2 linked regions of the Homo sapiens genome follow. The protein of the gene in region 1 purifies or fractionates together with the protein of each later gene. This does not show direct contact. Each region holds a gene or a part of one and is shown on either strand. Other genes may lie near its edges. The genes, in order: HLTF and SHPRH.

Region 1 (11,570 bases):
CTCATTCCATCACCCAGGCTGGAGTGCAGTGGCACAGTCTCAGCTCACTGCAACCTCTGTCTCCTGGGTTCAAGTGATTCTCATGCCTTAGCCTCCCGAGTAGCTGGAATTATAGGTGCGCATCACCATCACCACCATGCCCAGCTAATTTTTGTATTTTTAGTAGAGGCAGGGTTTCGCCATGTTGGCTAGGCTGGTCTCGAACTCCTGACCTCAAGTGATCCACCCGCCTTGGCCTCCCAAAGTGCCGGGATTACAGGCATGAGCTACTGCACCTGGCCTGGAATATTTTTAATTATACCCCAGGCATCATGTGTTTTCTCCCAATAAAAACAAGTCTTCTCCTTACATACCGGTATTCTGTAGACTCTGTCCCTAACGTTTGCTCACTGTACATGCTCTCTTTAGGAAATTTCATTCATTCTTACAGCTGTAAATACTGTCTGTTGTTAACTTTAAAATTCATATCTACACCTCTCACTTCTATCTATAGGTAATTATTTACATTTTCCTAGTATACGTCTTCAGTTAGGTATTCTATAGTGACCAAAAATGATAAAGGTCTAAAATATTCATCTCTTTCTTACTTGGATGCCCACTTTTCCCTTCTTTTTTTTTTTTTTTAAACTTCCTTATATTTTTATCACACAATTCTAGGTAGTCATTCAAGTATCAGAGCATCTTAGTCTTATTATTATTATTCATATTTCATATTTCATTAGTCCCCAAGTCCTATCAGTCTTGTCTTAGTTTCTGTTTTTCACACCTGTCCTTTCCACCCTGTTCCTACTTCTACCTTGCTGGTTTAGGACTTCATCATCTCTCTCCTCATAGCTTCCCAGCTGTGTCTCCCTGGTATCTTCTCTTTTCAGTTTAATCAGACTATTTTTTTCTGCTGAAAATCTTCTAGGTCTGGTTTTTTTCATGATTAAAAAAATAATAATAAGTTTTTAAAACTGATCATGTCCTCAAGAAAGTCAGGGATGATTATTTGTTCTTCATTTTTAGTTACATCACTATTGTGGTTGATACCTGGCAAATAGTAGGCCAATAATAAATGAGTGAAAGAAAGTGGCTACAGTGCTTGAATCTCTGCCCACATCCTTGGAAATATTGGTTGTTGTTCTTTTACTGTTTAATTTTTATATTATTAAGTCTGCTAACTAATGCAGCATTAAAGGGCCTTCTAATTAAAATATTTTTATAAAACTCATTATTGTTTTCAATAACTTTGGTTTTTCCTCCTAAAAATGAAGCAGTTGCTGATTGGTAGGGCCAAGTAAATTTTAAATAATTTATTATTACTGTGTATGTGTCATTTTTCTTATTGTTATTATTTTGGTCTAGACTGAAGGAAACTTGATTTCATACAATTTTAGTAGTTGGATTTGTCACACTACTGCCAGGGCAGTTACTTTTTTATACATCTATTAAGTCTGACACAAATCTGCTCATTGTTAAAAATATTCCTAATTTTTCTTTAGGACCAGTTTGGACAACATATAAAATCAGATGTACACTTGAATTTTTATGTTTATTATGGTCCTGATCGTATTAGAGAACCGGCCTTACTTTCAAAACAGGATATTGTTTTGACTACGTATAATATTTTAACTCATGACTATGGAGTAAGTATTGTTGATACTTAACAGATCTTTTAAAGATTGAATGTAAGAAATATGCCACAGGTTTCTAGAGTGTTCCAAAATTCAGGCTTTATACTTTTTTTTTCTCTTTAGATACTTAACGATATATAGAAAAATAAATGGTTTTTTTTTTTGACTTTTTGCGTGAAAGGGTTGCATTTTATTTAGATGCTAATTTAGGAGTATTTTTCTTTTCTCCACTCCTCCCCTCCCCCTCCCTCTCGATGGAGTTTTGCTCTTGTTGCCCAGGCTGGAATATAATGGTGTGATCTCAGCTCACTGCAACCTCTGCCTCCTGGTTTCAGATGATTCTCCTGCCTCAGCCTCCCAAGTAGCTGGGATTACAGGCATGCATCACCACACTCAGCTAATTTTTGTTATTCAGCAGAGATGAGGTTTCACCATCTTGGTCAGGCTGGTCTTGAACTCCTGACCTCAGGTGATCCACCCACCTTGGCCTCCCAAAGTGCTGGGATTACAGGCGTGTGCCACCACACCCAGACAGGAATATTTTTCATTTAGAACATTTTAAGTTAAGATTTTAAATTTGGATTGTAAGTATATGAAGCAATTTGTAAATGAATTTTATTTTCTTTTTTAATATTCTGGAAAATTGTTTTCTATCACAATGATTTGATTAATATCTCAGTTTGAAGGTATGCTTTTTTTGTAGTTACAGTTCATAAGTTTTCCAGTTAGTCTAATTGTTTTTTACCTTTATAATTCCAATTGTTCAAAAGTTAAAACTTTTTGAAAAATACCTTGCTATCAAAATTTCAGTCTTCTAGTAAAAATATTACCTTTTATATAAAAGAAAGTAATGTTGAATTCAAGTAATTCTTACAACTGCCATTTTCTATATCATTGCTATGTTTTAATCCGAGGTAGAACAGTTCAGTGTATTGACCAGTGACTCAACAGAGAGCTAGACTGCTGCTTGGGTTTGAATGCTAGTTCTGCCACCTGTGGTGCTTTGGGTAACATACTTACTTAGCAGTTTGTGCTTCAGTTTTCTTATCTGTAAAATTAGGTGTGCTAATAAGTACTTATTTTATAAACTTGTGAGTATTCAATAATTAATGTAGTGCTTAAAGCAGTACCTAGCACATAGTAAATTTGATATTAAATAATGATAACAACTAGTTAGCAAATCATATTAAGTACTATTTTACTTTCCTGTGTTTTTTAATTCATATAAAACATTTATTTCAGACTAAAGGAGATAGTCCATTACATAGCATAAGGTGGCTAAGAGTGATCCTGGATGAAGGACATGCCATACGAAATCCAAATGCTCAGCAGACAAAAGCTGTACTTGACTTAGAATCAGAAAGAAGATGGGTTTTGACAGGTAATCATAGCATTAAACTTACTAAAACCTTAAATCTCTAAAATATATCATTATGTAAGTTAGTAAAGTAACTTTGTAAACTTAAAGTGGGTGTAAATTCTGCCCCAAAATTAATCATATAAATAATTTAATCAAATGTTTTGAGTTGTTCTTCATAATTGCCCGTGATATAACAACATTTGACTTATTGATAATTTATGGAACAGTCACTAGACTTATTCTTGAACCTTGGAAATGGAGTAGACACTCTAGTGGAAATGGAGTAGACACTCTAGTCATCCAGTCATAATCTTGATTTCTGTTTCCCATCCTCAAACCTGTTTGCCATTCACAGTACCTTTACTAGAAGGTAAGGAAAAGAATGTAAACTTAAACTAGTTGCTTTTTCCTTCTGCTAGTGCTGCTGCTTTAAAAACTAAATAAGCAGATGTACTTGATAAGGAGAAAGTTGAATTTTCCAGTCTTTTTCTTGGCTAGTGTGTCATGTGAGAGCTAAAAATTAGAGCAAAACTGTATCTTGAGATGTGTATATTTTTAATAAATGATTATAGTCAACACTTGATAGTTTAATTTAATTGATAATGATGAGCCTGGTACAGAGTGCCCATTTTCAATTGTTGTCTTCTCTGATTGGGCCAAATAGATACTCTTACTGGATACTCTGGTTAAAGAGTTATAACAGTTTCCTGTTATTTCTAGGTACTCCAATCCAGAATTCTTTAAAGGACTTGTGGTCTCTTCTTTCCTTTTTAAAACTTAAACCATTTATTGATAGAGAATGGTGGCATAGAACAATACAGCGTCCTGTCACAATGGGAGATGAAGGAGGACTTAGGTAAGTACTTTCAGACAGTGATTAATATTAGTTACAAATAACTGTTAGTAGCTTGAACCAGTTGGCACTTTCTTTACTATTTTAACTTGACTCTTAACTTTTCCTTCTAAAAAGTGTTTATGGCTCAGTACCTTTGTCTTTCAGAACCTAGTGATGCTTGTTTGGAAAGACAAAGATTTCTAATTGTCGATAACTACCCTTCCCCTGTTGTGGCTAAACTGAAAGGAAAGACATAACTGTTTTTTGTGTGTTGCTAAGCCCCAAAGCCCCAAAACCAGCATTAACAGATTTAGCAGGAAACATCGTATATCCTTTGAGGATCTAATATGCATTAAGTTTTCATATCTTATATAGCTTTATTTATTTATTTATGTATTTATTTATTTGAGATGGAGTCTTGCTCTGTCGTCCATGCTGGAGGGCAGTGGCGCGATCTTGGCTCACTGCAACCTCCGCCTCCTGGGTTCAAGCGATTCTCCTGTCTCAGCCTCCCAAGTAGCTGAGATTACAGGTCTGCGCCAGCATGCCCCGCTAATTTTTGTATTTTTAGTAGAGATGGGGTTTCGCCATGTTGGCCAGGCTAGTCTCAAACTTCTGACCTCAGGTTATCCTCTTGCCTCGACCTCCCAAAGTGCTGGGATTACAGGCATGAGCTACCACACCTGGCCTTACATAGCTTTATATAGTGAATGATGTGAGGTACCATGACCTTAGCAAAAGTTGTATAGGAAAGTTTTATGTGGTTGTTTCTGGTGGAGATAGATAAAAGTTGAGAACATAAATTAAAACTCAGTGATAGCCATTTTGCAAGATGTAATGTGGTTCAACTTTTTGGCTAAAGCACCGGTTTATAGACTGAAGATTTGAGAGCTATTAGTGGGATATAAAATCATTATAAAGGTGGTAGCCAGCATTTAAAAAGACAATGAAATAGAGAAGAGATTAGTAAATATCGGAGTGCATGATACATAGTAAGTATTATTTTGTGAAATATTTGTTTCTTTTGTATGTGTTTGTATATTTTTGCTGGATAGAATGTGTTTCTTACTGTGAGTTATAGTGAGAAAGCTTCAAGAGCCACTAACCTAGTTGGCAGTACTATCCACTTGATTCCTCAAAACCAACTATTTAAACTCCAGGAAATTGTATTTATATTTCAATGTTGGGAAAAAACAAGAATTGATACATCTCTTTTTTTCCAGTACTGAGAAAGAAATGTAAAGATTGTGGAACCTGTAAAGCATTTTTCTGTGTTCTGAATTACCATATTATCTTTTTATTTTGGGGGCACTCATTACTTTATACAATTACTTATTTATATACTTTTGATTTTAATATTACAGAATGTAGTATCTTACCCATATTTGTATTCTTACAACATTTAATTCAGTGCCTGGCACTTAATAGATACTTAGAATTTGAGTGTTGACTATTCGGTGATGGAGTTGACAGGACAGTTGAGAAGTAAAAGAGTTAGTGATTGGAACAAAAATGGGGAACAGAACTTACGAAAATAAGGACAGGATATAAAAAGATTAAACTATGTTAGGTATTGAGGGGAAATTTCCATACATTTGTTTTAATAATTTTATTTTTGTAGAATACTTCTGTGATTATCAGATTGGTTAAAATCCCAAATAAGGGATTTTAAAAACACTTTTACAGAAGCTATAAAACAGTAACAAATTAAAATGTTCTGTTTCGTTCTTCTTGGATCAATTTATGTAGAAATTAAAAGTTACATAATTATTTGTTTTATTCTGATTAGGCGTTTACAGTCCCTAATTAAAAATATTACACTTAGAAGAACAAAGACAAGCAAAATTAAAGGAAAACCTGTTTTGGAGTTACCAGAACGTAAAGTATTTATTCAGCACATTACACTTTCAGATGAAGAGAGAAAGATTTATCAGTCTGTGAAAAATGAAGGCAGAGCCACTATTGGAAGGTATGGAGAAAGAAAACCATGTTAAAAATTAGTTTTTGTTTACTTTGTTTCCCATTCACTGAATGACATTATTTAGATGTGTTAGCAATAGTTTGAAGTATACTGAAAGATAATTTGCTTCTATGAATTACAGTGTTTTTTACAAATCAATAAAGTGAATGAAATAATAGTATAATTCACCAGGTAAGTAATTTTTTAAGTTAGGAAATAATTTAAAGCTTACTTTAAATGACAAGTTCTCAATTGCTAGCCAGAAGATTTTGCTTGCTTCTATTTCCAAAATCGTATGGAAATCTGGAAATAGGAACTGATGAAATAGGTTTAACAAGAAGATTAAGGATTGGTAGAAGGTATGAAATTCTGGTCCAAGCAAGATCAGGTTTAATGTGAGCCCACAGGGAACAGAATGAATAAGAGACAAGTGAAAGCAGAATAGGACTGTGAAAGGGGAATCTTCAAAACATAAAAACTTCAGTGAGGTAGGTACAAAGCAGGTTTGATAGGAATTAGAGAGAGTGGGAAAGATTGTTCTAAGCAGCAGATTTCTGAGTTCAAAATCTTCTTTCTTTTCATATTCTTTCAACAAAAATTTATTAAGTGCCCACTGTGTGCCAGGCACTTATACCCATTGGGATACAGCAGAATAAAACAGACAAAAATGCCTGCACTCGAGGAATTTATATTTTAATGGGAAGAAACAGATAATTTAAAAACATGATTAAGTTTTAAGGAATAAAGCAACGAAAGGGGATGGGGAATGCCAAAGCTGTTTTAGTAGGGTATTAAGGAAGACCTCACTGAGAAGATGATATATAGGTAAAGATCTAAAGGAGATTGGGATTAAGGGGTGTTTCAGCCAGAAGGAAGAGCAAGTGTAGATGCTCCCAGTTGGGAACATGCCTGGTGAGCTTGAAGAATAACAGAGAAGCAAGTGTGGCTGGATAGTATGAACGAGAGAAAATAGTCATGATATCAGAGATTTATTGGAATGGGGGTATGTAACGCATATGTCAAGGACTTTGGCTTTTACTTTTTATGACAGGAAACCTTAAAGGGTTTTGAGCCAGGAGAGGGACGTAATCTGATTTATATTTTTAAAAGATCACTCTGGCTGCTGTGCTCAGATTTAGGTTATTTGAATAGGAATAAGGTCAGAAGTAGGGAGACCAGTGGCAGTCAAAGCAAGAGATGATGGTGGTTTTTACCATAGTAGTGATAAAGGGAGTGAGAAATGATTAGATTCTGTTAAATTGTGAACGTAGAACCAACAGAACTTGCTGGTTGATATGTTATGGCATGTGAAAGAGGAATCAAAGATAACTTCAAGCCTTTTTACCTGCATAAGTGGAAGGCTGGAATTGCTGTTTACCAAGACAGGTCTATGGGAAGAGCAGAGATTTTTTTAAGCTAAGATCAGAAGCTCAGTTTTGGACACATTGATCATAGGATGCCCGTGAATTTTCCAAGTAGAGATATCAAATAATTAGTTGGATAGGAGAGTCGAGTTCAAAGTCAGCTATGTGTGGATGGTAATTAAAGCCATGAGATCACCAAGGGAGTGAGTAAAGTGAAAGAGATCTAACTGTGAAGATAGCAATGGCTGGTGAAATAGGAGGAAGGAAGCTTCTAATATTTAGCACATGGTAGGCACTCAAAAGAGATCTCTTAAATTGAAATGCTGAGTATCAGTAAGATATGACCATGCCAGGGAATAATTAGTGTTAGTAAAGGTTATTCTATTTGAAAAAGTTGAAAAAGATTAACTTTATTGAAACTGTTCTCAGAAAATAAGTTATTTTTAAAGTATTCTTTTTAATAGGCTATATATTTACTAACATTTATTTAGCACTCACTAGGTGTTATACATTGATCTTAGTGCTTTAAATGTATTCACAGCAATCCTATTAGGTCAGTATAATTATCCACATCTTATAAGTGAGGAAACTGAGGCACAGAGCAGTTTAGGTGACTTACACTGTTGTCACACAGCTAGTGAGTGACAGGACAGATTAACTCTGGCACTTTGGTTTAGAGCTTGTAAGTTTAATCTTTGTATTATTTTGCCTATTCCTTGCATTCTTGAATATTCAGAAATGTTTGTTGCCATAATACTACCAGTACTAATACTAGCAACAGATTCATGTATAGCACTTAATATAGTCCAGGCACTATTTTAAATACTTTACATGTATTAAATTAAATAACAGTAGTTGTATGAGGTAGGTACTTTTACAATGCCACTGTTAGAACTGAGGAAGCTCAAGACATAGGTTAAGCAACCTGTCCAAGGTTACATAATTAAATTGGCACAGCCAGGTTTTGAATTCATGACCAGCTAGCTCTAAAAATTTGTACTCTTAGCCGTTAGGCTATATTTCTTCTGTTGCCTTAAAATACTTAAATATCAGATGGCCTGGTTATATAATTTTTGGATCACCCATTTCCTTAAGAATCTATGTTGTCATTGTACCACTGTATTTTGTATAGAATGTTTCTGTGGGGAAGCCTGGTTTTTTTTTTTTTTTTTTTTTTCCCTCTGAAGTTCAGCAACTTCTTTGTTGACTTTCCCCTGGGACATGTGATATTATTTAAATCTTTAGATTCCAGGCTTTTCCCCCCTTCTCTTTCCTGGAAAGCTTTCTTTAAATATTGTTTTCTGTTCCATTATTTTATTTCTCTCTGTGTATGTTAGATGTCTTTTATCTGTGTTCCATAGGTATCATTTTATTTCTGATCTTTTACATTTTTTTGTTTAATTTTGATTTTCTCAGTCCTGTTTCCTACATCCTTTTCTATGTTTTTATCAGTGACTAGTCTTTTTTTATATTGGCTTATATTGGTTTCAGTGTGACTTTCATTTCTCTGATGATTCACTGTTTTCTTTCACTTTCTTGAGCCATACCAGCTCATCTTTCATCTCTTCCTGTTCTCTTGCCATATTTTTTCAAAGCTCTTTGTCTTTGCTTTAAGATTTTTTTTTTTTGGAGGAATTGTTTTATTGAGTGGTGTTAAATTGTGACAGTATCCTTGGTCATAATTTTTATTTGCTCTGTGGCAACATTTTTCTGCTGAGTTTTCTTTCACTGCCATGTGTCCCCTACCTTTGCTCTCTGCTGATTATTACTTATATTTGAATATCTTGAGTTCTTCTTGGACTAGCTATTTGCTAGTCCAGATATACAAAAGGGAAAGGTCACAATCATGTCCCCGACCAGCAGGAAATAACCCAATTTACTTAAGACTCAGGGTTACATGTTGAGTTACTTTAGGTTTTATTAGTACACATAAACAGAGATCAGAAACTTTAGGGGTGCTTGGAGTGTAGAGTGCTGTGCCCATAGTCTTTTTTTGAAAATACAGTGCACCTGTATGTTTCTGTATTCAGTTTACCTTCCCTCTTTTTTTGATATAAATTTCTCCATGGAAGCTCAAGTCACCAAGCATGCACCCTGTTCCTGTTTCTGCACATGAGAGGTATTGATTTTCCCCTCAGGGCATGCCATCCATTTTAAAGAATTGTGTTTTGGCAGCTCTGTTTGAGATCTGCAGTCATCCCTCTCAGCATCTTCCTATCTGACTTAGACTGCAATTGGCAGCCATTTCTCATATATTGTGCCTTATTGTTATAGATCTCTCTTGGTTTTATTAGAGTTGCTTTTCTGCTTTTCATTCTTGTTTTGGAGTAATTTCTAGAGAAGAAAAGAAAAATGCCATTTTACTCTGCTGTTTTAGAATAGGAAGTTATTATTGTTTAGCGGACTTAATAATATTTGACATTTTAATCTCTAGGTATTTTAATGAAGGGACTGTCCTGGCACATTATGCAGATGTCCTGGGTCTTTTGCTTAGACTGCGGCAAATTTGTTGCCATACTTACCTTCTTACAAATGCAGTGTCTTCCAATGGCCCCTCAGGTAGGTAAATTTGATTGCTTCATATCATTGTATTTGTCAGAGATACTTAAATAAGAGTGATAAATTTTTTTTATGTGGCATACATTTAGTTTATTTTGTTCTGTCAAATGGAGATTGCTTTTAGTGTGAGACTCAGCTAGGAATACATCCAATAATTTTTTTACCAATGAAATGGAATTATAATGAGGTCTTTCCAGGAATTCCGGTGATAGATACCCTTTGATGAAAGATTCATATTGGATCTGCCTTTTATTGTGTGGTGGTATGTTATTGTCATGTTATAATGATGCTTCTCTATGAGGTATATTATGTGAGTTGGCTACTATTTTGGCTTCTGAATGTTTCTTAAATTTCAAATTTAAATTATGCTTTTTGCCTATGGCAGAAAATGATGAGAGACTTTCCCTACTGGCAAGCGAAACTTTTCCTTATAAGATAGATTAACTTGTCATATTACAAACCTTGCTCTGAAATTAATTTTTCAGCCTTTTCTCTAGGAAATGATACACCTGAAGAACTGAGAAAGAAGTTAATAAGGAAGATGAAGTTAATTCTGAGCTCAGGTTCAGATGAGGAATGTGCAATTTGCCTGGATTCTTTAACAGTTCCTGTGATAACACATTGTGCACATGTATTTTGTAAACCCTGTATTTGCCAAGTCATTCAGAATGAGCAGGTTAGTTTTTTGCTCAGTACAGGTTCAGTGTTTGATAGAGTAGTGTACCTGTCTTTAATATAATAAAAGATAGTATATGGAGTTTTGCACTTGGATTTAATAATATACCTTTGATAGTTAATTATTCCAGTATTTTAATAGGTGATATATTTCTTCTAATGCAACATTTGCAACATAAAAAGATGTTCACAGTCAATATCTTAATTCCGCTGTTTATATCATTGCTGTTCAATAAATGGATTGATAATGTGAGACACAAAGATAATTTTCAGTTTTCTAGTAGTCATACTCTTAAGTAAAAAGAAACATTAAGCTAATTTTAATACATTTGTATTTAACCCAATATATCTAAAATATAAAAAGTATTAATGTGCTTTTTACAAAAAACTAAATCTTCAGAATTTGGTGGTGGTGTATACTTACAGCACACCTCAATTTGGCTTAGCCACATTTCAAGGACGTAATTGCCCCATGTGATTATTGGCTATTGTGTTGGATAAGGTAGGTCTAGATTCTTTTGTGTGGTAGAATTTTTTTGAAGTTGACTAGTCTGTTAAGCAGTCATTCAGCTGGGGTAGAATTTTTTTAAACATTTTAAATTGATATATAACATATGTAGAAAAAATGTATAAATTCATAATTAAATAGCTCAGTCAATTATGAGGTAAACATATTCCTGTATCTGCTGCCTAGGTCCCCTTGTGGCCCCTCCCAACCATTTACCCTCTCCCTCTTCCCCAAAAGTAACCCCACTGTATTGACTTTTAAATAATTTTAGCTTCAGAATTATTTAATTGTAATGGTGTTTTATATATAGTTATTTAAGATATAATCTTATTTTATTAACAGGTTCAAACGGGTACAACAGATGTTGCTTTGGAATGAACTTGATAGGATTTAACAGATCCTAGTAGCTTTATAAGCTATTATAAGCTTTATAAGCTTAATAGCTTTATAAGCCATTAAGATGGATTTTTTTTTAAAGAATAGTACTAAATAGTGTAGCTGTATTGTATTTAGGTTCAATAAATTGTTATTCATAGATTTTTTTTTTAAACTTGCTTACAATGTTATAATTTTTGGTTTCTTGCTCTTGCTTCTAGCTAGTCCAGATCACATACTTTTGCTCCCTCCTTTATCCGTTCTACTTACCACATTATGTCTGGAGTTCAGCATGTTCAGATGTCTCTTAAATGGATG
Region 2 (11,485 bases), on another chromosome or scaffold:
GGGGAAAGGATTCCCTATTTAATAAATGGTGCTGGGAAAACTGGCTAGCCCTATGTAGAAAGCTGAAACTGGATCCCTTCCTTACACCTTACACAAAAATTAATTCAAGATGGATTAAAGACTTAAATGTTAGACCTAAAACCATAAAAACCCTAGAAGAAAACCTATGCAATACTATTCAGGACATAGGCATGGGCGAGGACTTCATGTCTAAAACACCAAAAGCGATGGCAACAAAAGCCAAAATTGACAAATGGGATCTAATTAAACTAAAGAGCTTCTGCACAGCAAAAGAAACTACCATCAGAGTGAACAGGCAACCTACAGAATGGGAGAAAATTTTTGCAACCTACTCATCTGACAAAGGGCTAATATCCAGAATGTACAATGAACTCAAACAAATTTACAAGAAAAAAAAAAACAACCCCATCAAAAAGTGGTCAAAGGATATGAACAGACACTTCTCAAAAGTAGACATTTATGCAGCCAAAAGACACATGAAAAAATGCTCATCATCACTGGCCATCAGAGAAATGCAGATGAAAACCACAATGAGATGCCATCTCACACCAGTTAGAATGGCAATCATTAAAAAGTCAGGAAATAACAGGTGCTGGAGAGCATGTGGAGAAATAGGAACACTTTTACACTGTTGGTGGGACTGTAAACTAGTTCAACCCTTGTGGAAGTCAGTGTGGCGATTCCTCAGGGATCTAGAACTAGAAATACCATTTGACCCAGCCATCCCATTACTGGATGTATACCCAAAGGATTATAAAACATGCTGCTATAAAGACACATGCACATGTATGTTTATTGCAGCACTATTCACAATAGCAAAGACTTGGACCCAACCTAAATGTCCAACAATGGTAGACTGGATTAAGAAAATGTGGCACATATATACCATGGAATACTATGCAGCCATAAAAAATGATGAGCTCATGTCCTTTGTAGGGACATGGATGAAGCTGGAAACCATCATTCTCAGCAAACTATCACAAGGACAAAAAACCAAACACCGCATGTTCTCACTCATAGGTGGGAAGTGAACAATGAGAACACATGGACACAGGAAGGGGAACATCCCACACTGGGGCCTGTTGTGGGGTGGGGGGAGGGGGGAGGGGGGAGGCATAGCATTAGGAGATATACCTAATGTTAAATGAAGAGTTAATGGGTGCAGGAGACCAACATGGCACATGTATACATATGTAACAAAACTGCACGTTGTGCACATGTACCCTAAAACTTAAAGTATAATAAATTTATATATATACATCAAAAAAAAAAGATTTCTTGAGGTCTTAGATGCATTCTGAAAGTGCTATCCACTATTTTTGTACTTCAAAATGACACGATTGTGACCCTTGAAATACTCAGAGAATATTTTACTTGTAGATCTCAAAACTGCATAATAAATATTACTCAGAGTCATAAGTATCGACAGAGTCGTCGACAATATTCCTATTCTTTAATGCCTAACACCATACTGACAAGATTAATTGAAAAAATATGCCTTAGGGGAAAATGTAACAGTTGGGTATGGAGGGTGGGGAGGCTCTGGGATGGTGGGAAGGAGAGCCTATGATACAGATTATACTATCTTCATTGTTAAACACTGAATATAATCTCCTATCTTTCCTTACCAGCAGATTCACCTTCAACCTTCTTGCTTTTACCTAATTTAAATCGTTGCTTTATTCACACCTAAAACAAACACTGTCATAGGTTCATGTCCATTGCAGCATTTTGTGTACAGACTACAAGTTTTGCTTTAGAAGTTATGAGAGGCAGAAGGAACACAGCTTGAGGTTTTAGTTTTCAGGCTGAGCTTGCAGCAGGGGAGACCGAACAAACTTTGGGCTTGAAACCAATCCAACTTGTAAATCATCAAGGAAAAATGAAACAAAATTAACAATTAAATCTACCCAGGTCTAGTCTAGGGAAAAGCTGTAAAGTTCTAAATATGAGGATTTGGGTTCAATTCGCACACCTCCTGTCCCTGATATATCCTGCTCATGCTCCTGCAAAGCATGTCCGACCCTTGGTACCATTTTATGTTTGGTTGATCTGATACCACTCCTTTCAGCATAGCTGATGACCCCTGCTAGCACCAATTTTCCAAGACCATGTTTCTTCTTCCCACTCTTTTTTTGGTACTACATGCATTCTACCAGTGGTTTTGGACGTTGTAATTCATTCCAGAATAGCGGAGACTTTGATCCTAATATTTTCAATTTGTCAGAAGGGAAAGCAGTCCCAAGACAGGTTGGTAGTAGGAATTGGCAACAAGGAGTCATCTTTGGGAATCCCCAATCATACTGGGTGGGCCACCTACTTTGTTTCCAGAGAGCTGGCAAAGGTAGGTAGAATACAGAATAAATTTCTCTAGTCATTTTGTTAATGATCTATTCAGGAGAACACAGTGTTTGTACTGAATGATCCTTATTGTTGATATACAAGCCCTATGTCATTAAGTAATGACACACCTCTTGCCTTCAGTTTGCCCATGATTACTTAGTAAGTTTGAGGACTAAGTTGTATATTTTTATTTGATAGACAACATGATTTAGTAATAAGAGACAATAGCCTAGACAGAGGAATAAAGAGTTTTAGGTCCTCTTGTTCTCTTACAGCTAAATTGTGGCAAATTACCAAATTTCTGAGTCTCAGATTGCTCTCCTGTAAAATGGAAATTTTAAAAGCCTATTACTAGTCTAGGGATCAAATAAAAAAATAAACATAAAAGGGCTTTGCAAAATATAAAGTTCTTCACTGATAAATCATCATTTATCTTGTTTCTGTCCCTAAAGGGAGTTAAATTTGTCTTAACTCCTCTACTCCCTCTCAACTAGTCCTCCTCCTTGAGAACAACTTAGAATATTCATTTGTAAAATAGATGCCCCAGTTAGGGGTATGGCTAGAATAAAGCCACTGTCCCTAAAAGAAAATGAACCTACAGCTAAAGCTAGTGAGACCATACAAGGAAGAAAGTGGTCTGACTGATCTCATGTTATAGTTTCAAGAAGGAGCAGATGAACTCCGTGAACACTGAGTTATTCACTGTCAAGATGCACGATGTCCAATCAGTTCATTCTGATTTGCGGAATGTCATTAGATCACTAGCATCTAATAGGTGGATGAACTCAGTGTACTCAGGGGTGAACAGGTGTCTCACAGCTGGGAGCTGCCAGAGAGCCAAGGTGCAATCATGAACCATGTTTTCTGAAATTAGCTCTGATGAAAAATATTATTCCAGAGAGAAATTTTTCAAAGAATAGGCAGAGCATTTGGTAAATATAGGATTGAACACTGGAAAATTTAAAAGAATTTTGTTTCATTCTAATCACTGAATGGTAGTATACAGAATTCCATCTCTACAGTTGAAATTGCATCTCCATACGACAGACAACTGGATCTGAAGTTTAATATCTTGCATGGACATTACCATGATTACATATATAAATTACCCCAATCAAGGTGAACAAAGGTGAAATGATGCTGTGCTTATTTTTAAATATTTCTGCCTAGCACTAGTTGGATAGACTCAGCCAAACTTTGGGCCTAATTATCTGCTCCAATGATGAGAAGTGACATAAAACTATCAAAGATAACCTTACTCAGCACATCATATGTTTAAATAGCAAGTTGCAAATTACACTTTCAGAAGCAAGGTTACATCACCTTGTATTTGATAAAATGATTGGTTTGCCAAGGAAGGAGGATCCTACTTGCCCACTGTTCCAGCATTAGCACTACTTTTTCCAGCTTGCCTCATAAATCCTGGAATAAGGTAACTGATTTCCATCTATAGGCATACCTTGGAGATATCACAAGTTTTGTTCCAGGCTACCACAATAAGGCAAATATTGCAATAAAGTAAGTCACAGGATATTTTTTTTGTTTCCCAGTGCATATAAAAGTGACACTGACACTACAATGTAGTGTGTTAAGTGTGCAATAGCATTATGTCTAAAAAAAGTATCTACCTTAACTTAAAAAATATTGTATTGCTAAAAAAAATCTTGCTTAAAAAATATTGCTTAAAAAAGTTGGCTGCAGCAATTGACTCTTTATTTCACAAAATATTCCTCCATGATATGAACTGCTCTTTGATAGCATTTTACCAACAGTAGAACTTCTTTCAAAACTCAAGTCAATCCCCTTAAACTCTGGACTGCTTTGTCCACTAAATTTATGAAATATTTTAAAATCTTTGCTGTCATTTCAACAACGTTCACAGTATCTTCCCAGGAGTATATTCCATCTCAGGAAACCAGTTTCTTGGCTTATCTATAAGAAGTAACTCTTCATCCATTAAAGTTTTACTATGAGATTGCAGCAGTTCTGTCATATCTTCAGACCCCACTTCTAATTCTAGCTCTCTTGCTGTTTCCACCACATCTGCAGTTACTTCCTCCATTGAAGTCTCAATCCCTTCAAAGCTGAGACTTTGAGTTCCTGAGAGATGGAATCAACTTCTTCTAAACTACTATTAATGATATTTTGACCTCTCCCACCAATCTCAAATGTTGTTAATGACATACAGAATGGTGGATGTTTTCCAGAAGTTTTTAATTTACTTTGTCTAGATCTATCAGAAGAATTCCTATCTATGTCATCCATAGCCTTATTACTTCTTAAATAATAAGATGTCAAAGTTAAAATTACTCTTGATCCATGGGCTGCAGAATGGGTTTTGTGTTAACAGGCATGAAAACAACATTAATCTCCTTGTACATCTCCATCAGAGCTCTTGGGTGACCAGGTGCATTATAAATGAGCAGTAATATTTTGAAAGGAATCTTTTTTTTTTCTGAGCAGTAGGTCTGAACAGTGGGCTTAAAATATCCTGTACATCTATGCTGTTAAGTAGATGTGCTGTCATCCACACTTCATTGTTCCATTTATAGAGTACAGACAGAATAGATTTAGCATAACTCTTTAGGGCCCTAGGAGTTTCAGAATGATAAATGAGTATTGGCCTCAAATTCAAGTCATTAGCTGCATTAGCCCCTAACAAGAGAGTCAACCTGTCCTGTGAAGCTTAGAAGCTATGAAAGTCCTAGATGGCCTTTTCTTTCTATAGAAAGCTGTCTTATCTACATGGAAAATCTGTTGTTTTGTGTGGCCACCTGCTTCAATTATTTTAGCTAGATCTTCTGAAAAACTTGCCACAGCTTCTACATCAGCACTTGCTCCTTCACCTTGTACTTTGATGTTATGGAGATGGCTTCTTTTCTTAAATCTCATGAACCAACCTCTGCTTGCTTCACATTTTTCTGCTACAGCTTCATCACCTCTCTCAGCCTTCACAGAACTGAAAAAAGTTAGGGCCTTGCTCTGGATTAGGCTTTGGCTTAAGGGAATGCTGAGGCTGGTTTTATCTTTTATTCAGGCCACTAAAACTTTTTCCATATCAGCATGAGGCTGTTTCGTTTTCTTATCATTTGTGTTTTCATTGGAGTAGCACTTTTAATTCCCTTCTAGAACTTTTCCTTTGCATTCACAACTTAGCTAACTTTGGTACAAGAGGCCTAGCTTTTGGCTTATCTCAGCTTTTGACATGGCTTCCTCACTAAATTCCTTCGGTTTTCGATTTAAAGTGAGAGATGTGCCACCCTTCCTTTTACTTGAACACTTAATAGTCCATTGTAGGGTTATTAATTGGCCTAATTTCAATATTGTTGTGTCTCAAAGAATAGGGAGGCCTGAAGAGAGGAAGAGAGACAGGCGCCAATAGTGAAGCTTTCAGAACACACACAACATTTATTAAGTTTAGCATCTTCTATGAGCAGAGTTTGTAATGCTCCCAAAAAACTACAATAGTAACATCAAAGATAACTAATCATAGATCACCATAACAGATGAACAGCAAGTGAACACATGCTGCTTGAAAAATGATGCTGACAGACTTGCTTGAGTAAGGTTGCCAAAAAACTTCAATTTATAGGAAAACATATTATCTGCAAAGTACAATAAAGGGAAGCAAAATAAAAGGAGGCGGGGATTTGCTTATGGAAACAGCTTCGTATCTGTGATAAAGGAATATACTAAGTAAAATATGGACTACCCTGGACTGTCTAACACAACTACAACCGATATTCACTTGGACAAGAACTTAGTTCAAGTGCTTCTGTGGTCACACAACCCAAAAGGCCTCCACAGCAGAAAAGCTGCTATTAGGTACTCACTAACTAAGTACTGAGTCCCCAGTGTTTCCTGAGGGTTATTTCACAGGCTCCTGACCCTGAAGCCTCTCAGAGTTATTCCAACATTAAGGTCACTTCTATGAGGAAGAGGTGAGAGGAAAAAAGACCAATAGTGGAAGGCCAGCTTCAGCGCAACACATGTATTTAATAGTTTCTCTCATCTTTGAATATTTATTCACATTTCCCTTTAAAGTCTGTTTTTGAGGGGGAGAAGCTTTATTCGTACCTACTTAGTGGCTGCTTTATAGCAGTAAAATAGATGCTTTTGCAGAATTCTTTTCTGCTTTTCTTTTGTGAGACGGAGTCTCATTCTATCACCCAGTGGGGAGATGTCGGCTTACTCAATCTCTGCCTCGCAGGTTCAAGCATTCTCCTGCTTCAGCCTCCCGAGCAGCTGGGACTACAGGCGGGTACTACAGGCGCGCACCACAACGCCCGGCTAATTTTTGTATTTTTAGTAGAGACGGGGTTTCGCTATCTTGGCCAGGCTGTTCTCCAACTCCTGACCTCAGGAAATCCGCCCGCCTCGGCCTCCCAAAGTGGTGGGATTACAGGCGTGAGCCACCGCTCCTGGCCCCTGCCTTTTTATTAGAGATACAAATCACACACGCCCTTCGCTTCAAGGGGAGCCCCGCCCCCTACTTCGGGCATTCGGCCATCCTGTGTTCTCTAATGGCGTGGGGCAGAGCTATCGCGAGACTCCACTGTATCCTCAGCAAGTTTTTAACAGTGTGAACTTGCGCAGAAGAGACTCATGAAGCCAGCGCAGGAGAAAGGGGGCGGGGTGCTCTGACGAGCGCGTTCGCCTTGACCCCACGCTACAGCGCGCGCCCGGCAGCTAGGCGCTGTGGTTTCTGGGTCTCCCGGGGGACCCCTACACGTTCCGGCAAAAAGCGCTCGTGCCCACCTCAAGCCCATGTTCGGTGGGTGGCGAATGCGTGCCCGTGATCTGCTGGGTCTGTAGAGGAGCGCAGGCCTGGTGCAAACAGACTCAAGAGGCTCGGAGAACCAGCTTGGGTAGGCGCTTGGGTGATGGAAGGTCAGGGGTCAGAGGTCGGGAGGGAGGGAGGGAGGTGGTCTTTGGCCTCCGGGACCAGGGAGGGAGGACGCTGGTTGTCCTGGAGCCCGGGAAGCTCAAGGGCTGAGAGGGAGCCGCTGCGCGAGTCTTCCCCACCTCTTCCCGATCCCGGACTAGCGAACTTCGGACCACCACGTCCCTCCGGGGATAAAGTGGGGTCGTGGGAAAGGAGGCTGTGCTTCTCCTCATGCACTGGGGCCTGCGGTGTTTGTCTCGAGCGTCCAACACACTAGGATCCGGGAGTCCGTCGTCACGCTCCTTGGCCTCGCGGTCGCTTGTTTGCTCGGCCTGCTGGGAGCGATCCGGCGCTGACAGCCCCGCTCAGACTCCGGGAGCCGCTTGTGGGTCTTTCGGAAGATAACTGAGTGGGTACCGTGCGCCGCAGATCTACCCCCGGAGGCTGGAACTGGGTCGCCGCCTCCCTTCTTTGTGCGCGGCATTGTATTAGTAAAAGGGGAGGCAGAGGTTTCTCAGTCCCACTCAAAGTTCTCCGTTACCTTTGGAGCCAGATTAATTACATTCGAATTCAGAACCACTCTTTGACATTGTACAGTTTGACTGGTAGTTGCTATGTTTATGAACGAAGATAGGGTGTTATTTGATGATTAATAGTCACTGTATAATGATCAGTTAAATAATGACCAGGAAGCTTGTGCCCTTTTTCCAAGTAGTTTGACATTAGCACGAGGTAGAAATCCGAGATGTTTGATGCCTTCCAACTTGTACTTAAGGAACTTAAGGAACTTGGGGCTTTTTCTGAACAAAATAAGATAAAGTTATTACTGTTACTTTAAATTATTCCAGTGGGCATTAGTAGGAATGATGAAACTCTTGAATAGAAACGATCCATGATATCTCTACTGTCACAAAAAAGACTATTTAGTTTATGATTAGTAAACATGCTGGAGACAGAGCAGTCCTGAGCAGTATTGTAATGATTATGTCTGTGCTCGATAACCTGCACTTTCTAGAGCTTTAAAGGACCAGTTAACCAGTAAGCTGGCAATTGAGAATAAAATAGTTTACTTTTGAGAGATGCTCTTGTATATCCTCTTTGTCCACCCGAAAGGAGCTGGACTTACAGAATTATTAAAACAAAACTTTTATTATTAAGAGTTTAGGCCAGTAAGATTTAGGGGAAACAATTTGCTGGTGAAAAAGCTTCTTATGAGGGCATTTTTAAAGTTTATGTAACTAGCATATTTTAGCATTCAGTAGAAGAAAATACTCTCACCTTGCTGGAATTATTTCTACAGAAAAGGAAAAGATTATGTTAACCCTGGGTCATTAAGAGCTTCCTAGTACTTAGTAATGAGTGGGCTTCATTTCCATAACACAACATTTTGGACAGGAATATGGCAAGTATGTAATCCTTTTTGCCCTTAATAGCCTAAACCCAGATCTACCATGGATTTGTTGTAATTCAAGATTTGTGTGTATCTTTTAAAGAGGAAATAATATTTTGGAGGGAAAAAATGTGAATTTAAGTTGTGTTATTCATTTGTTGGATTGTCTTAGTAATGTAACATTTTATGTTTATTTTTCTAGCATTCCATCCTTGTTTTCTGTTAAAGATACAGTTCAGGCAGTTTTCCCTGCCTCGTTCTAGTATTTCATTTTTCTCAGAAATACTAGTTTCATATTACCTATAGTCTTCTAGAATGTGGATAAGAGAGACTTCTCCAAAAAGAAATAAGAGTAAAGTATCGTTAGGTCCTCAAAAGGAGGGAATACATCCACGGAATTAGAGATCTTTGTTTCACCCTTTTTGTATGTCTTTACTTCCTAGCACTGACCTGGCATTGGGAGTACAACACTGAATAGGATACTACTCCTGCCCATCTTTCAAAGTGAACACTCTAGCAGTTGGGATCGAGGAGAGAGAGGCCCTTAACTCAGCTTCTCTAGTCATGGAAGCCTTTCCAGGGAAGATTGGGATGGAGACAGGCATAAAAGCAATTCAAGCAAAAGGCTTTTATATTTAAATACAAGACAGTAAAAGTGCGGTCCATATAGAAAACTTCACATAATTACGTTTTACCCAAACACTGCTAATTAAGGAGGAGGAAGAAGTAGTTGTGACTGATAAGGTATGAATAAAACCAGAAGAATATGGGATGTGGTTAGATACAGAATTTCACCAGTACTTGACTTACTAGTTGCCAAATTGCATTTTAGTCATAAGTATATTTGACCAAATACTATTTTCTTTGGTTCAAGAAGTTAACCCTGAATAGAGATTTCCTTAAGTAAAGACTCAGTCAAAACCAGGAGCTTTTTGTTTGGTTGGTTGATTTTTGATCATGAATGTTTACTCAGTTAAGAACTGGACAAAGGGAGAGCATTGCTAGAAATTCTGGTGTTGACTTTTCTGCAGTTTATCATTATCACTGATAAGTACCTTGAGGCACTAATATTGGAAGAATCAGGCTGAAAGAATACATCTGAAGGAATGTGCAAATTATAATGGTGTACATAATTTAAAAGATACTGGATAGGTTTTACCAGAGAACAGAATAAATAGTTGAAGTAATGTTTTCTGGTTTGGTAATATGTCTGTTACAAAATTATTGTGGGAAACATGGCACATATTACTTCTCACATTCCATTGGCTAGGACTGGTCACAGGACCAAACCAAGCTGGGCAGTCATTTCTCAACTACTCTATACTTTGAGTGGAAATAAGTGGATTTTAGTTGGCAGCTGGTTATCCATAACAAGGTTTTTTGAACTTGGCTGCACCCTGGAATTTTTTAGGGATTCTAAAAAATAAAGGGAGTAGTGCCTGGGCCCTTCTCCAAGACATTCTGACTTAGTTGGCTCGACATCAGGATTTTTTTAAGTTCCCCTGGTGATTCTAATGTGCAGTCAAGTTTGAGAAGCACTAATCTGTGGTCCCCCATCCTGCGACATTACAGTTTGGTTATTGTGAAATGTGGTTTAGAGCAGGGGTCCCCACCCCTCAGGCCATGGACCGGTGCCAGTCCGTGGCCTGTTAGAACCGGGCTGCATTGCAGGAGGTGAGTTGCGGGCAAGCGAGCATTACCACCTGAGCTGTGCCTCCTGTCAGATCAACAGTCAGTAGATTACCATAAGAGCATGAATGCTATCGTGAACTGCATATGCGCAGGATCTAGGTTGTGCACTTCTTATTAAAACCTAATGCCTGATGATCTAAGGTGGAATAGTTTCATCCCTAAACAACCCCCTCTCCACTCCACCCCTCTCCTCCGGTCCATGGAAAACTTGTCTTCCATGAAACCCATTTATGGTACCAAAAAGGTTGGGAACTGCTGGTTTAGAGTGTTCTCAGGATGATGATAAGTAGCAACTACCATTTATGGAATACAGGCCAAATTTCTAGTACTGCTGTTGTACTTAAATTATTTCTAACCACAATCCTGCTATCATCCCCATTTTAGAGATGAGAAAATTGGCACAGAAGACTGGATAACTATTCCAATGCCACACAGTCAGTAAATGCCAAAGCTGGAATTAGAATGAATATAAGACTTCAAAGCATTGCATTCTCACCTTTAAGCCACATCGCTTTGCTAATGTGAGACTCTGCTAGACAGTTGCTTTTTGGGTTTTCAGAGTTAATGATTCCACAATAACCATGTTATTAATATTATTATGGTTAGTGTGATACATTGTGTAACTGGCCCAATTCCCTTCCAACACTCCCTCTACCCTTCCACCCCCCATATCCATGCTCTTTGCCATGTGCAGTTTCACCTAGTAAAGAGGTGTAGTATATTTCTTCACCACTTGACATTGGGTCCATGGATATGTCTTGCTTTGGTCTGTGGCACCTTAGTGGTTTTTAAGCACTTTGAAAACTACTTGTGTGATTGGATTTGCAGTAATACACCTCAACCATTGCCATAAAGAACATTCCTGAGTTACTTTGCTGATCCAAGGAGAGGGGATAGGAACTACATTAAGCAGAGCCAAACTGCTTTTCCAGAAACCTAGCCTAGATTAGCCTCCTTCAGCTAATGTGCAGATCTATGAGAATAAATGATTGCTATATCAAGGTATTGAGCTTTGAGGTAGTGTGTTACACAGCATGTTTGTGGCAGTAGTTAACTGATAAGCTACTATAGCATAACTTTTTAAAGTTCCTGCAGAGTGACCCACTTTCAGTATTCCAGCTTATGCTTTGAGGAAAACTGGACAAACATAAACA

Evidence for each region.
Region 2: the proteins of HLTF (region 1) and SHPRH purify together in Homo sapiens (affinity purification with western blotting; 2 studies listed by BioGRID and IntAct, with this or other methods). This does not show direct contact.

What each region holds. Positions count from the first base shown.
Region 1 is NC_000003.12:149,040,290-149,051,859, reverse strand, and holds part of HLTF (helicase-like transcription factor), read left to right. Parts: intron 1-1,484; coding exon 1,485-1,628; intron 1,629-2,858; coding exon 2,859-2,997; intron 2,998-3,696; coding exon 3,697-3,832; intron 3,833-5,600; coding exon 5,601-5,780; intron 5,781-9,569; coding exon 9,570-9,694; intron 9,695-10,179; coding exon of another isoform or gene 10,180-10,191; coding exon 10,192-10,370; intron 10,371-11,570. UniProt on the Homo sapiens protein: Has both helicase and E3 ubiquitin ligase activities. Possesses intrinsic ATP-dependent nucleosome-remodeling activity; This activity may be required for transcriptional activation or repression of specific target promoters.
Region 2 is NC_000006.12:145,959,904-145,971,388, reverse strand, and holds the start of SHPRH (E3 ubiquitin-protein ligase SHPRH), read left to right. Parts: upstream 1-7,030; 5' UTR 7,031-7,658; intron 7,659-11,485. UniProt on the Homo sapiens protein: E3 ubiquitin-protein ligase involved in DNA repair.